2 linked regions of the Homo sapiens genome follow. The protein of the gene in region 1 purifies or fractionates together with the protein of each later gene. This does not show direct contact. Each region holds a gene or a part of one and is shown in the gene's direction. Other genes may lie near its edges.

Region 1 (3,654 bases):
CTGCAAAGGGGCGTTGGAGAAGTGCAACTGCTATGCCTGACGTGGGGACAGCTCTGCTCCCAGATGTAAATAGAGTAACCTGCACAAACCTGGATTTTTTAAAAAATACAACACTGAGCCATTTGCTTCATTTCTTTTTATATTAAATATGTTAATGACAATAAAACAATTTTTACTTGAAGAAAAAAAATGAAAAAGGCTGAGTGCAGTGGCTCACGCCTGTAATCCCAGCACTTTGGGAGGCCGAGGAGGGCGGATCATAAGGTCAAGAGATCGAGACCATCCTGGCCAACATGGTGAAACCCTATCTCTACAAAAATACAAAAATTAGCTGCGCATGGTGATGCATGCCTATAGTCCCAGCTACTAAGGAGGCTGAGGCAGGAGAATCGCTTGAACCCGGGAGGCGGAGGTTGCAGTGAGCCGAGTCGCGCCACTGCACTCCAGCCTGGCGACAGAGCGAGACTCCATCTCAAAAAAAAAAAAAAAAGAATGAAAAGGTAGCATGGTGGCTCATGCCTGTAATTCCAGCACTTTGGGAGGCTGAGGCAGGCTGATTGATTGAGCCCGGAAGTTTGCGACCAGCCTGGGCAATGGGGCGAAACCCCATCTCTATGCAAATTACAAAAATTAGCCAAGTGTGGTGGTGCGCACCTGTAGTCCCAGCTACTCTAGAGGCTGAGGCAAGAGGATTGCTTGAGCCTGGTATGCGGAGGTTGCAGTGAGCCACTGCATTCCACCCTGGGTGACAGTGAGACCCCATCTCAAAAAAAAAAAAGAAGGAATTAAAAAATAAACTTTAGTTTTTGCCATAGCTCTTTATTTCACTAATGTCCTCTTCCTTCGTATAAACAAATACTAATCTCTCTAAATATAGCAAACTATCAAAAGGAAATAGTTTTGTACCCTGTTATTTATGAAACTTATTATGACAAACTACTCCTAAAGCAGCTTCAGCTATGATTGAATAAATGCTGGAAATCCAGGATAAATAAGATACTCCACCTCCACTTTTTAAAGTAAATAAATGATTTGTGTTTTTGGAATCTCAAGAAATTTATAGCCAGGCATGGTGGCTCACGCCTGTAATCCCAGCACTTTGGGAGGCCGAGGCGGGTGGATCACCTGAGGTCAGGAGTTTGAGACCAGCCTGGCCAACATGGTGAAACCCCATCTCTACTAAAAATACAAAAAAAATTAGCCAGGCGTGGTGGCTTGCACCTGTAATCCCAGCTACTAGGGAGTCTGTGGCAGGAGAATTGCTTGAACCTGGGAGGTGGAGGTTGTAGTAAGCCGAGATTACACCACTGCACTCCACAATCCAGCCTGGGTGACAGAGCAAGACTGTCTCAAAAAAAAAAAGTTTACTTTCTCACATGGGATATATTTTACAGTTGGTCAAATGTGCTTGTGTGTGTATATGTGTGTATGTGTATTCTTTTCTCTGTATCATATGTGATAGTGGGGTAGTGCCAAACATTGTTAACTCTGATGAATAATGTCTCTTTTGGTTAGATCATTCTTACCTTACTGGTATCTCTTACTGTTTCCTTACCTAGTTATGCTGTTATTGCCTATGGCTGTGCCAGCTGCCCGAAGCTAACTTGTGAGAGGGAAGGTTGCCAGACTGAGTTCTGCTACCACTGCAAGCAGATATGGCATCCAAATCAGACATGCGATATGGCCCGTCAACAGAGGGCCCAGACTTTACGAGTTCGGACCAAACACACTTCAGGTCTCAGTTATGGGCAAGAATCTGGACCAGGTATAAGTTGGCATTATCTCATTGTCTCTTTATTTGGTATTTCATGATGTGAGCCCATAGCTGAAAGAAATTATCTTATTGTATAACCCAAGTACTCCAAAGGATCAGAGAGCAGAAAATATCATTTGATAATACTTTCAATATTATAATAAAGATAGCACTTCCCTCTCTGACCATTATAGGTTATCCAACTATATAAAATTGAAATGCAACAAAATTGAATTATGTAGTTCCTACTTTCTTAGTAATATGTCTCAGATTGGAGAGCAATTAGTTCATTTTGTTTTGCTAGGGGCTTTTTCAAAACTTTCATTGTGAACAGAAAGACATTTAATTAGTATTAAACCTGTGCTGTTTGCCTTCAAGCTGACTTAAGTGCCTCACTGCCTTTGGAAGTAGAGTACAGATTGAAGAAAAGGAAACAGTATTAGTATAGATTAATGATTAACCTTAAAAGGAGGAATGTCACACATTCAGCTCCAACCTTGGCGAGTCAGAGGAAACCTATTTTAAAATGTCAGTGGATTTATTGCTTTGTACTTTTATTTTGCTGATGTCATTTGGGAGAGGCTAGTAGGAAAGATTTTGCCATTCACTTTTTCCTGGCACAGCATAATTTCCTAAATTGTCATTTTATTAGGATAGTTCATAACTTGCTCTGAAAATTACCAAGTATATGGTAGATAGCATACCCAGTTGTTTTTAGGTTTTGAATTTGAAAGTATCATGGGAAGGGATTGTGGGCTATGTTAACAGCAAATCACAATGATACATGTTGAACCTGAAAAATAAATTTCCCAAACTAAAGTTTTTAAAAATGTAAAGCTAATTCCAGGCTGCAGGCTATTCTTTCTGTAGGATTCTTCTTTTAAATCTACCAGCCTATCGACTGGTAGAAATTTCATTTTTCTTGGAAACATCTTTCTCCCTAAGGAAATCTCCTTGCTAGAATGTGGTTCAAGTGCTGTGTAAGATGCCAGTTGTTGGGATAGGCAGCTCAATAAGAGACAGGATTCATTTTATGAAAATTCCTGAGGTCTAGACATAGCCAACCTTCCAGTAAAGTGGGTTGTACAATTTGGAGTGTTCAGTGAAGAGTTCTTGACTGCTGCCTCATTTCTTATATATACTCCTAGGAACAATTAAATCAAACTGGATTTAACTAGGGGTATTTTTTCTACCCATTCTTCCCCCACTCATAGCAGATGACATCAAGCCATGCCCACGATGCAGTGCATACATTATCAAGATGAATGATGGAAGCTGTAATCACATGACCTGTGCAGTGTGTGGCTGTGAATTCTGTTGGCTTTGTATGAAAGAGATCTCAGACTTGCATTACCTCAGGTAAGATGGGAAATGCATCCATTCCTTTCGTAGTCTCATTCTCTTACTGATTTAGGGAAAAGGATGTCAAAAAGACACATCCGTTCTCTCATTACAGGTTTAAGGAAGCTGTGAAAACTTCTTCTGACATGCTCCTCTAATCATGTTTTCACCAGCTACTATTCTGTTTCTACCTTTCTTTGCTTGCCATATTACAGGTAGTCTGGACTTGCTTTTTCCCTTTTGCTGTCTTGCCTCCATACTTGTTCATGTTCTTTCCTTTGCCTAGAATGCTTTCTGCCTACCTTCCAGTATCCTCCTTTTATCTCAACTTGTTCAGTTCTTATCTTTTAAGAGCCACTTAAATGCCTTTCATCCATGTTGCCTCTCCTTTTTCCGCCTCATTCTTTGACTTTCTTTTATCTTTTGTCATAAATATCGTCAGTACTTTACACTTCACGTACCTATCTTATCTTACTAAACTGTAAGTATCTTGAGGCTAGAGTTGTGACCTTTTTACAGTTTTTTGCATTTAGTGAGTTCCCAAGGAATTCATTAAGTGA
Region 2 (3,397 bases), on another chromosome or scaffold:
CTGGATAACTTGCTGTAGTTTCTACTTTAGCAGTTGCTGCTTCACCTTATGCTTGTCTGTTGTGGAGACAGCTTGTTTCCTTAAACTCCATGAATCAACCACTGCTAGCTTCAGACTTTTCTTCTGCAGCTTCCTTACCTTAGCCTCCATAGAATTGAAGAGAGAGGGCCTTGCTCTGCGTTAGGCTTTGGCTTAAGATAGTGTTGTGGCTGATTTGATCTATTAAAAAAAAAAAAACTCAGGCTTTCTCTATACCACTTTTCTTATGATTCATGTGTTCACTTGAGTAGCACTTTTAATTTCAGGAACTCTTCCTTTGGATATACAACTTGGCTGTTTGGCTCAAGAGGCCTAGCTTTCAGCTTGCCTTGGCTTTCAACATGCTTTCCTCACTAAGCTCCAATCATTTATAGCATTTGATTGAGAGAGAGAGAGAGATGTACAGCTCTTCACCTGAACATTTAGAGGCCATTGGATGGTTATTAACTGGCCTGGTTTTAATAGTGTTATGTCTCAGGGAATAGGGAGGCACATGGAGAGGGAGAGAGATGGGGAATGGCCAGTGGAGCAGTTGGAACACACACGTCTGTGCCCTCAAACAAAACAGTAACATCAAAGATTACTGATCACAGATCACCGTAACAGATACAATAATAATGAAGACATTTGAAATGTGAGAAGTACCAAGATATGACACACACACAGTAAGCACATTCTGTTAGGAAAATAACACCTATAGATGTGCTCAATGTAGGCTTGCCACAAGCCTTGTTTGTAAAAAAACAAAAACAATTATCTTCAAAGCATGATAATAAAGTGAAGCAGAATAAAACAAGGTATGCCTGGTTTTTGTTTTGTTTTGTTTTGAGACAAGGTCTTTCTCTGTCACCCAGGCTGGAGTGCAGTGGCACAATCTCATCTCACTGCAGCCTCCAGCCTCTGGGCTCAAGTGGTCCTCCCACCTCAGCCTCCGAAGTAGCTGGGTCTACAGGCATGTGCCACCACACCACACCTGGCTAATTTTTGTAGAGACCAGGTTTCACCATGTTACCCAGGCTGGTTTTGAAGTCTTGAACTCAGGCGATCCATCCACCTCGGCCTCCCAAAGTGCTGGGATTACAGGCATGAACCACAGCACCTGGCCATGTATTTTCATTTAACCAGTACTAAATAACTACATGTCTTTGGCAGCCTATAATGTAGCATCCCATTTTTAAAAATAGAAGTGTGTATTCAGGGTGCACTCAATAGGATTACATCTGGCTGGCAGTCCCTTCCTACTTCAGTCCATTATCCTGCTACCAGAATGATCTTCATGGTTTCATTTAAAAAAAAAAAAAATGAGATCCTGTTTCTGTCTTAAAGTTCTCTTCTAATTCCTTGTATTAATCAGGATTCTCCAGAGAAACAAGACCAATAGGATGCATATGTGTATACACATATATGTATAGCTCTCTCCCTCATATATACACATATCATGTATATACATATATATCATATATGTACATATATATATATATATATGAGGGAGAGAAAGATTTATAAGGAATTAGTTCATGCACTTAGGCTGAGAAGTCTCATGATCTTCAGTCAGCAGGCTGGAGACCCAGGAATGCCAATGGTGTAGTTCAAGTCCGAGTCCAAAGGGTTGAGAACCAGGAAAACCAATGATAAAAGTTCCAGTCCACAAGCTACCTGGCTAAAGACCCAGGAAGACTGAATGTTTCAGTTTTAGTGCAAAGGCAGGAAAAGACTGATGTCCCAGTTCAATCAGGCAAGAGAAATTATCCTTACTTGAGCCTTTTTTGTTCTATTCAGGCCTTCAATTCATGAGAGCCACCAACATTAGAGAGGGCAATCTGCCTTACTCAGTCTACTGACTTAAATGTTAATCTCATCCAAAAACACCCTCATAGATATGCCCAGAATAATGTTTGACCACATATCTGGGCACCCTGTGGCCCAGTCAACACATTAAATAAACCATCACATCCCTTCATGTAGAAAAGAGTGGTTTGGACCATAGGCTCAGGAGTTAAACCACCTCTGAGCCTACCACTTTTGTGCAACTCACCTCACCTCTCTGCCTTTCACCTCTCTGTAAACTAGAGCAGCTCCCGAATGTCCATCTAGGAAGGCTTGGGGTGAGCAACCTGATTAGAAGGGAACAATGTGACTTAAAACTGCATATTTGCTTAGCAAACCTATGACTTTTCTCAGAATATACAGTTTGCTTGTGATGGAGGGCTATTAATATTTATAAGGAAACCAAATCCCCATTCACTTAAGCCATCCACTCCTACCACTGTAATTGAATATTACCTACCTTTCAGAATAATTGCAAGGTTTTGTGTCTTGATCATTATGAAAAATGTGGCAGGTATTATTACTAATAAAGAAGTACCCAACTATGGGAATGATTGTTCCTTCCTTATGAATGAGAGCAGCTCTCTGTTCAATACGATTCATACTCAAGTTCTAATAAACTTTCTTTAGCAAGAGAGCAAAGAGTATGGTACAGTCAGTCCACCCAGGTTGCCTGTTAACCTGGTGCTTGAAGGAAAAAAAGTAAGAATTTGCCCTCATCTAATTCCTCACTTGCCCTCAAACATGTCATACTACTTGACAATGGGGCTTTCCCACATTTGTCCCACATTTGCATGGTCTGCCTTATCTCTTACCTGGCGAACTCCTACACTCCTTCAAGACTTGCTCCAAAATGCACTTGCTAGATCTTCTGACATCAACTGCCACCTTGGGCTATAAGTTACGTGTGTCTCTTCCCCCACTAGACAATTACCTGATGGAAGAATATTGTTCTTAAGATGTTAAGATGGTGTATGTGTGGCATAGTATTTGTTCCTAAATGTAAAAGTTATTAAACAAGTTTTCTGAAAGTCTGAAGCTTTATTGTGTTTATTGTGATTGTGTTGTATTCCTGACATGTTGCTGGCTACATATTTTAACAGCTTTAAAAGTAATTTACCTTATGAATGTGCACTAAAAACGTACATTTTAGATATACTAACATTTTAAGTTCGGTATTTATGAATTTGGAATATTCAAGATTAAATGTAGAAAATTTATATTTCATTTATATTTTTCTAAAGAAGTTTTAATTGTAAGGAATTCTTTTTTCCAGTAAGGAAGATACAGTTGCTATCTCTTGCTCCAGTTGGAGGGCATCCTGAATTCCCATTTGTTCAGACGCTTTTCACAACTTGGAGCTTCTGGCATCTCCACAAAAATAATACTTTGACTACACAAGGCCAGGAATACTTTTTTGAGTTGGGGATACCCCAAACATTTATCTGTTCAATACAGTTGTCCAAAGACAAGGAATGTACTCTTGATTTGGGTTCTTTGTCACCTCAAAAATCTATATTACACCTTAGAC

Evidence for each region. The genes of interacting proteins can lie anywhere in the genome.
Region 2: the proteins of RNF19B (region 1) and USP15 purify together in Homo sapiens (affinity purification with mass spectrometry; 2 studies listed by BioGRID and IntAct, with this or other methods). This does not show direct contact.

What each region holds. Positions count from the first base shown.
Region 1 is NC_000001.11:32,947,680-32,951,333, reverse strand, and holds part of RNF19B (E3 ubiquitin-protein ligase RNF19B), read left to right. Parts: coding exon of another isoform or gene 1-40; exon of another isoform or gene 41-126; intron 127-1,559; coding exon 1,560-1,765; intron 1,766-2,967; coding exon of another isoform or gene 2,968-2,970; coding exon 2,971-3,112; intron 3,113-3,654. Other genes in the region: metallothionein-1E-like, read left to right, coding at 1-40.
Region 2 is NC_000012.12:62,413,493-62,416,889, forward strand, and holds the end of USP15 (ubiquitin carboxyl-terminal hydrolase 15), read left to right. Parts: 3' UTR 1-2,897; downstream 2,898-3,397. UniProt on the Homo sapiens protein: Hydrolase that removes conjugated ubiquitin from target proteins and regulates various pathways such as the TGF-beta receptor signaling, NF-kappa-B and RNF41/NRDP1-PRKN pathways.